Linked DNA regions of Homo sapiens. The protein of the gene in region 1 interacts with the protein of each later gene in a pairwise test. Each region holds a gene or a part of one and is shown on either strand. Other genes may lie near its edges.

The links.
Region 2: the proteins of ZNF521 (region 1) and CFAP298 interact in a two-hybrid assay, tested with the Homo sapiens proteins (one large-scale study listed by BioGRID and IntAct).

Annotation. Positions count from the first base shown.
Region 1 is NC_000018.10:25,349,181-25,353,768, forward strand, and holds the start of ZNF521 (zinc finger protein 521), read right to left. Parts: upstream 2,987-4,588; 5' UTR 2,825-2,986; intron 1,768-2,824; 5' UTR 1,767-1,767; coding exon 1,727-1,766; intron 1-1,726. UniProt on the Homo sapiens protein: Transcription factor that can both act as an activator or a repressor depending on the context. Involved in BMP signaling and in the regulation of the immature compartment of the hematopoietic system.
Region 2 is NC_000021.9:32,602,378-32,606,025, forward strand, and holds part of CFAP298 (cilia- and flagella-associated protein 298), read right to left. Parts: intron 1,907-3,648; coding exon 1,748-1,906; intron 916-1,747; coding exon 784-915; coding exon of another isoform or gene 712-783; exon of another isoform or gene 1-711. Other genes in the region: CFAP298-TCP10L (uncharacterized protein LOC110091775), read right to left, coding at 784-915, 1,748-1,906. UniProt on the Homo sapiens protein: Plays a role in motile cilium function, possibly by acting on outer dynein arm assembly. Seems to be important for initiation rather than maintenance of cilium motility.

The DNA of each region.
Region 1 (4,588 bases):
TCCAAGTGACTAGGAAGAGGTTTGTCCTGGTACTTCGCTCAGCGTTACTTTCAAGAAAGCCGGGGTCTCGGGCAAGTCTCGCCGGCGCGAGCCTGGTCCACCGTTACCCTGACACCCGCGCACGCCCGTGGCGTTTCTTTTTTCACTGTCGACACTTGGATCTTTCAGGCCCTGGGTCTAGGTTTCCCCCAGAAAAATGAGGGGCCCATGTGACGGAAACCACCAGACACACTGTGTGGAGACACATGCCAATGATTCACCTCGTTCCCGAACTAAAACTTCTGCGCTTTAGGAAAAAAGCAAGCGTTCCAATCTGCGAGGCCCTCCCCCACCCCGTCCCTTCCCAGGAGAAGAAAGAAAGGGCTTTGTGTGTGCGGTGAGGGCTCCGTTCATCGAGTTCAAAAATGCACAGCGGCCGGGGGCCGGGAGGCGTGGGGCGCCGGGCCCTGCCCACCCCTTTTCCCCGGGCCGGCGGCGAGTCGGGAAGCTGGTGCGGGAACCGGGGCCACGGGGCGCCGCGGCCCGGCAGCCAGGAGGAAGAGGATGCTGCGCCGCCGGGGACCAGAGGGCGGGGCCGGGCCGCGCGGACCTCGGCGGGACCCAGCGGGCCCGGGCGGGCGCACCAGCCGCCCTTTGTCCTCCGCCTCCGGGTCGCGGGGGCCGCGGCCGCCTCCAGCGCTGGCCCCCTGGCCCTCGCCCCGGTTCCCCGTCCTGCCCGCGCGCCCCTCCTCCGGCCCTCGCGCTCCGCCGCCCGCCCTCCCCGCTCTCCGCCTCGGAGCGCCGGACCTCGCGGCTCCCCTCGGCCGCCCGCCCCCGATTTCCTCGGAAGGAGGCTCGCGAAGGTGGAGGAGGCGGCCGAGGAGGAGGAGGAGGCCGCCACGTGACTCTCCTCGCCACATTCCAACACAGCCATCAGATCGATAACTTCAGGGACCCCCGCCCCCGCCGCAGCCAGCTAGTGCGCCCCCAAAATCCCGCACGCACGCCCCGCAACTTCCCTCTCCAACAGGGACGACGGAGAGCTGGACCCCACCGCGAAACGCAAAGGACTCCAGGGGCGGCGGGGAGAAGTAGGGGCGAGGGGCGGTCAACTTCTGGGAATGGCCAAGAGGGGTGCTCTGAGGCCCGAGCCGGGGTCCGGTGCCCGCGGCCGGCGGCCGGGGTCTGTTTACTCCGGCGACGTGCGGAGAGGACCCAAGCAGGACGCGGGCGGGCGGGAGGCGGCGGCCGGGACCCCGGGCCACGTTTGTCACGAGCGGGGGCTGCTCCCCACCTCCGAGATGACTTTTTTCTTCTTCCAAAGAAAAGGAAAAAAGAAGCACCGCACGGTTTTGCATATTTATTCTTTGCGAAAACACACAACAGAAACTTTTTCCTCCAGCCCAGATGTAGATCTCAGACGGGATATTTTTTTTTCCTCCCTCTCCGGATAATTTCGTTTCTTTCTCTCTCTCTCTCTTTTTTTTTTTCGGTTGTTGTTGTCTTTTCTCGCCCACTTTCTACCGCCGCCCCATTCGGGGATCCTCCTCCCGTCTTCGTCTCCCCCCACCCCGACACCTCACCCTCACTCCACCTAGGGGCTCAGCGGGGAGGGGAGCGCGCGCGCCCCCGCACTCACACTCACACTCACGCGCGCACACGCCTCGCAGCCACGCAGCCCTCGCTCCGCTACCCACAGTGACACTCGCGGATGGGGGAAAGCGGGGAGCAGGGGGTTCCTCCTTACCTTTGAGGGATCTCGGTTTCGCTTGCTTGCGGCGAGACATCCTAAAAGCAAACAGCTGAAGTTGTTTCAATTCAGCCCTGAAAGAAACTATACTTCCTCGTGGCCGCGCGCCCCTCGGGCCGCGGCGCCTCGCGCCCTCCGCTCGGCCTCCCTCGCGCCCTCGCTCCGCGCTCCGCTCCTCGCTCCGGCTCCGGCTCGCGCTCGCGCGCGGGGCTCGCGGCTGCCCGAGCTCCGCGCTCTGCACGACGGCGGCGGCGGCGGCGGCGGCTGCTGCACCAAACTTTCCCAGCCTTCGACCCCCACCCCCAATCTCCAAGAAAAAAAAAAAAAAAGGAAAAAGAAAAAAGGAAAGGAGGGAAAAAAAGCTAAAAAAAAAACCCCAAAGACAATGTTTGAAGAGCCGTCAGCTACACTAAAAAGAGAAAATCCGTTACTATTTCCACCTCAATCAAAATTCACATAGTTCATGCGAATAGAAAAAAACTAATAAAAAGAAAAGCGTCTGGGTGATTTTTTTTTTCTTTACCGCTTTTCCTTTTCAACAAATCCGCCCCCCCCCCCACCGGAAAAAAACAAATAACACTGATTTGTTTACAAAGCGAGTCGTGCTCTTTTGTAGTTGGGGGGACGAGGGGGGGAAATCGACCCTGCAAGGCGATGAAAAGGTCTTGGAAAGAAAAATCTCCCACCATCCGAGGCAGATGCGAACGGGCCACGAAAATAAGCAAAGGGAAAAAAATACTTTTTTTCTCCCTTCCCCCCACCCTTTTTTTCTTAACCCACACTAAAGTAATTTCTTTCAAAAAGAAAAAGCCAAAGCACCCGAGCCGACGGCCCCCAGGTGGTGTGCGGGGCTGCTTGTGTGCAGGGGGTGTGCGGGGCCCGGGCTCGGGGCGCCCCTCTCTGGGCGGGGGCGCGGCGCCGGCGGCTGGCGCTGGACCGGGGCTCTAAAGTCTACGGCTGCCTCGGCAGCGGCGGCGGCAGCAGCGGCGGCAGCGGCGGCGGCAGCGGCGGCGAGAGCAGGAGGAGGAGGAGGAGGAGAGCCGGGAGCAGGAGGAGGAGAAGGAGTGTGCTGTGTGCTCCCTCCTCATCACAAACCTGCAAGGTCTTGGACTGCGCTGTCGCTCCGGTAGTCCACATAATAATGGAAAATGGAAGCAAGGCCCCCAAAGCCATCAGGATGGCTCCAGAGGGGGCCCCTAACCCGCAGGGACTCGCTCTGTACGTAATCACTGAGGAAATCATTGTCAGCCTGCCTGCACTCACACACAGACAGAGGGGCATGATTAAAAGGCGAGAGCGCGGGGAGCGGGAGGGAGGAGGGGGCCCGCCAAGACCCGGACTGGAGGCGCCGGCCGCGGCGCGCGGATCCGGAGCCAGGCGGCGGCCGAGCGCCCCGAGCCCCGCCCGCCGCCGCCGCCGCCGCCGCCGCCTCCCACGCGCCGCGCGCCCCGCCCGCTCCTGCGCCGCCGCCCCTCGCGCCGCCCGCCCGGCCGCTCGCACACCCCGCGCCGCCGCCGTCGCCGCCGCCGCAGCTGCGTTATTAGAGCTCCACGGCGGATCTCGGGGCTCTTCTGCTCGCTTTTTTTCCTCTTCAGAAATTAAAGCAGAGGAGCATCTGAAAGTGGAAAGGTCCCCCTTCTGGTAGGATGGATGTAAAAGGAGGCAACAATTTGTTCTTGAGGGGGCAAAAAAAAAAAAAAAAAAAAAGAAAAAGAAAAAGAAAAAGAAAGGAGGGGGGAAATTCATTGCTTGGCTTTTGCATTGTCGGACTTTAAAAAAGTGTGTCTGCTGTTGTTGCCCGGACTCGGGAAATCTTTTTTATGGCAACCGCAGACCTGCCAAGTCTCTCTTACTTGGAATCTTTATAAAGGCAAGTTATTTGGACTTTTTTTTTATTTTCTCGTTTAGAGAAAGTCATTGATGCTGACGAATGTCATAATGTGATTCAAAAGAGACAGCTTTGAGTTCACTTTTTTAACATTCTCAAATTGACATAGATCTTTGTCCAGAAAATAAAGCTTTCTGTTGATTTTTTCTTTAAGCAAGAGGTAAGGAAATATGCACTTAAGAATATGTGTACAAGAAAATAGTTTCTAAAATAAATTGAAATGTCTGCAGGTCGGTGGGAATTTTTGTTTCTTTTCGCAGTTTTGTTTTCTAACTTTTCACCTGCTCCCATCGCAAAACAAGAAACCATCACCTGTTTCCTTCTTTTACCTTATCTTAAGGGAAAGGATGTTTTAGTATTATTATTGTTGTTGCTATTTATTGATTGGACACGCTTGTCAAGTTATAAATGCCTGAGAGGGCTACCAAGTAGAGCTTAGATTCACAAGTCTTGGTGGAAATTAAGAGATTCAGAATACGGTTAATTACACAAAACAGGCAGAATTTTGTACAAATACTATTGTTCTTAATCAGATTTTAAAAATTCTCCGTTCTGTAAAATTAAGGTACAGCTATCTATTAAGCCACCATGCAAAGACATCAAAGCTTTAAGGAAGTTGTATTTTTTCCAGTCTAACCTGTAAACTGCCTGGACCCTCATGTGGATAGCTGCAAATACAGTATGTTTTTTTTCAATATCTTCATTATAATTAAATGAGTTTTCAATCCATCTGCAGTAATTCCTAAAGTGAAATCATAGTTGTAGTCAAATTTAACTTTGCATGACTGTGAAATAAAGCAACTTTTGTTGCAGAATCTGTGTTGGTACATTAAGGATTCTAGATTTTATACATAACCTTATACATTCATTTTCACAGAAATCATTCAGAAAGGGAAAAATGTGTAAACACCAAGTTTTTACAAGACTTTCCTTTCGTGTGGTAGCCATATGTGTGCAGAATACTATGGTGC
Region 2 (3,648 bases), on another chromosome or scaffold:
GAGAGCAGAGCAAATTGTGGATTAAGGTGTTCTTAGAGTGACAATCCTGAAGTTACAACAAATGTTTTACGATTGCCTTTGCCGGCTACTAAAGATAAACAGGTCCCCCATGTCTGATCACCCGAAGTGAAGCATCAAGGGAAGCCTTGGTCTTGAGCAGCCCTGAGCCCTGGACTCTCACTGTGTGGAGACCAGAGGCTGCACGATACCATCTCTGTCTTGACCATTCCCAAGGCAGACACTGCAGGCAGGTCCAGTGGGAAAGGGAGGATGCTCAGAGCCACGGACTCTGGATCTACATAAGGTGGAGGGCCCCATTTCCCCAAAATCACAGCCTAGTGACGTAGGAGCACCCACAAAACCAAGGCGGCCCCTCAGGTTACAGCGCTACACGATGTCCTTCAAAGGTCTCGAACCTTTCCTCCTCCCCCTCCTGTACACAGCATCAGCAGTTTGAAAAAGCCTGAAATCAGTGACGGGCGAAATTTTACATTTCAAGGAACATATCTGTTTACTTGCAGCCCTATTTTTACGCTTGAAATTAACATAGTATATTTCCTCTCCCCCACATATTAAAACAAACTCTAGATATTGGTACTCAATCCATATTTTCTTCCAGTTTTTGTTGGTGTGCAGGAAGAGGATATTTTTAGTTTAAACCCGAGCCAATAAGATTAAAATATTTGTACCAGTAGTTTAAATCTTTCGGATTCACTGTACATTTTTATCAGTTTGAAGGGAAATAACAAAAACTACTGACACATTAAAGCAAAAAGTACTTACTTGCTGAATCTTGGCGATAATTTTGGTTTTTTCATTCTTCCCCACGTAGTCTGAAAGCTTCTTCGTTCTTCTCAGCTCCTTGGCTGCCCACCACAGCTGCGCCTCTGCCTCTTTAATGACGTTGAGCCCTGCCTGGGGCCAGTCGTAAGAATGGCTTGACTGTGTGTTCCCACCCAGGGGGCAGAGCCCAGCTGAGCCCCTCCCAGCAGGGGGCAGGGGACAGATTTCTCCCCGTGCTCACCATGGGAGGCCTGACTCCCGCACCTCACTCTAAGTCCTTGCTGACTTTAGTACCTTCCCTGTTAAGTTTCCACTCATGCCCTGACTCAGTTAACTTCCTCCTCTGGACAACAGGGAGATCCTATCTCATTTGCACCTTGATCCATATAGTTCGTCTTAGACAGATCTGTAGGCCACTGCCAGGGAAGGGCACTGGCATCGTGCTGGGTGTTTAAATCGAGGTATAAAGGGGCTGCCTGTTTACTTCTGCATATTTCATTTATTTAACATGGCTTAGACAAAGAATATTGTCCAATAGGATAAGAAGTGAGAAAACCCAAGGAAAATGGAACATGAGGGTCAGAAAATAACATGAAGCAACAGGTAAGACTAGAAACACAAATTTCCATGCAAAGGGACTGACGCATTTGGGTAGAAATAGGAAGAAATTAGGTAGCTGGCTTCCTAGCAGCCAAAGACAGTGGAAATGTTTGCAGTCACTCCTGATGAGCGGCCTCACAAACTGCGTCCACTGCCTCCTGTGTGTGGGGCCAAACCCCTCACTCATGAGTACCCACTCTCAGGGGCTGCTCCTGAATTCAGAACTCTGCTCTGAAGCAGGGCATAGCAAACCTGAAAGCTGTGTAGGGAGCAAAACACTACATCCAGAAGAGGGGCATCAAATCTTAAGGGCTTTGGGGGCCAGGAACTCAACCTCCAGAGTACCCACTCACAAACTACGTACCTGTGTTCCCGACAAGTCTTCCTTATTTTCAAACTCCATGCGGATGGGATCATACGGTGGCAACCCCATGGGGTAAACAATCATCACCGCGCCTCGAAGCTGGTCCAAGGCATCTTTCACCATCTCCATGGTAACACAGACACCGGCTTCCACTTGTTTCTGCAAGCAGAAAGCCATCGTTATCTACAGTGTGGCTAATCACTTCCATAAATTCGATCAAGATCTTGTACAAGACCCTTGCCAGATACTGCCAGAGCAACAAAAAGAAATCAAACAGTTCTTGCTCCCAGAGTGACTACCATCTATTTCAGGGGCTGAGCGAAGCACACCGTGGCCTGTATTATAAAGCAGACGGTGAGCAGCACTGAGCATGGAGTACAATGAAGTGCAAAGAATTCTCAAAGGAGAAAGAGCCCAATGCTGGCAGCACAGATGGCAGTGAGGATCGGGAGATACGGCAGGGGGAGCAGGCACCGCAGGTGGGCCTCGAAATGCAGATGGGCTGAAAAGGTACAGATGGCAGCAGGTGCTTCAGGACAAGCTGAAACAAAGAAAAGCAGGCGCCAGCCCCCTCAGCATGGGGCAGGAAGGAGAGAAGATGAGGCCAGCTCTAGCTGGATCAGCTGAAGTTTGTTTTTGAATGGCCACAAAAGCCAGGCTGAAGAGTTCACCTTTCCTCTGTTAGGCCACGGGAAGCGACTGCCTTTTCTGGGAAGGAGTGGTAATGTTGAGAGATTTATCTTGTAGCTGATATAGAACAGACCTAGTTGGCCAGATGTGGTGGCTCACACCTTATGTAATCCCAGCACTTTGGGAGGCCGAGGTGGGCAAATCACCTGAGGTCAGCAGTTCGAGACCAGCCTGGCCAACATGGCAAAGCCCTGTCTCTACTAAAAATACAAAAATTAGCTGGGCGTGGTGGCAGGTGCCTGTAGTCCCAGCTACTCAGCAGGCTGAGGCAGGACAATTGCTTGAGCCTGGGAGGCAGAGGTTGGAGTAAGCCAAAATCGTGCCACTGCACTCCAGCTTGGGCAACAGAATAAGACTCTGCCTCAAAAAAAAGAACAGACCTAGTTGGAGGGAGACCAGGTAGCAGGCTCTGAAGAGTACAGAGGAAGGTGTGATGAAATAACAAATATATCTGGTCTTTGCTACTCAGTTCCAGGCACAGAGCTCCAAAACTCTTGGAATTTCCTGAGTGACAGGAGTGTCTTGTTATTTATAACGAGCCCCTTCTCACCATACCTGAGCTTGTGCTAATACAGTAACCTGTAGTCCGCGCTGGGTTTCAAGGAAGGGGCTGGCCGTGCCTGGGAGACCAAGCACATAATTAGAGGGTTGGAGCTTTCGGCCTCACTCCCTTCCTCCACCTCCAGGCGCTAGAGGTTGGGATCAAACACGTGGCCAGTGGTTTAAGCCATCATGCCTACTGAACAAAAACGCTATAAAAATCCCAGACATCATGGCTCAGTGAAGCTTCCTGATTGGTGAAGACGTTGATGTGCCGGGTGACACACATCAGTGGGGGCGTTGTGGGAAGCTCCAAATTTGTAGTCAAGCTGGACACAAGTATGGGTGGCCTGGGGACCTCACGTGCAGCTGGTGTCTGAAATAAGAGGAGTCTTGTTGGTGATCTCACCCTTTAACTTTTAGGTCTGATGCTAACTCCAGGCAGTTAGTGTCAGAATTGAAGGATCTGCCCTTGACCTGTGGGGTCTGTGCTGTCTCTGAGTAGTTAGTGTCAGAACGGAATTGAATTGACTGGCAGGACCCCCAGTGGGCATCAGAATGCAAAAGGCTACAGGAGAGCCTTAAAGAAAGCCACAGCTGTGGAAGTGAAAGGAAGAGGTGGACTTAAGAGGCATCATGGGAGCAGACGGTACAGAACCCCACTTCAAACC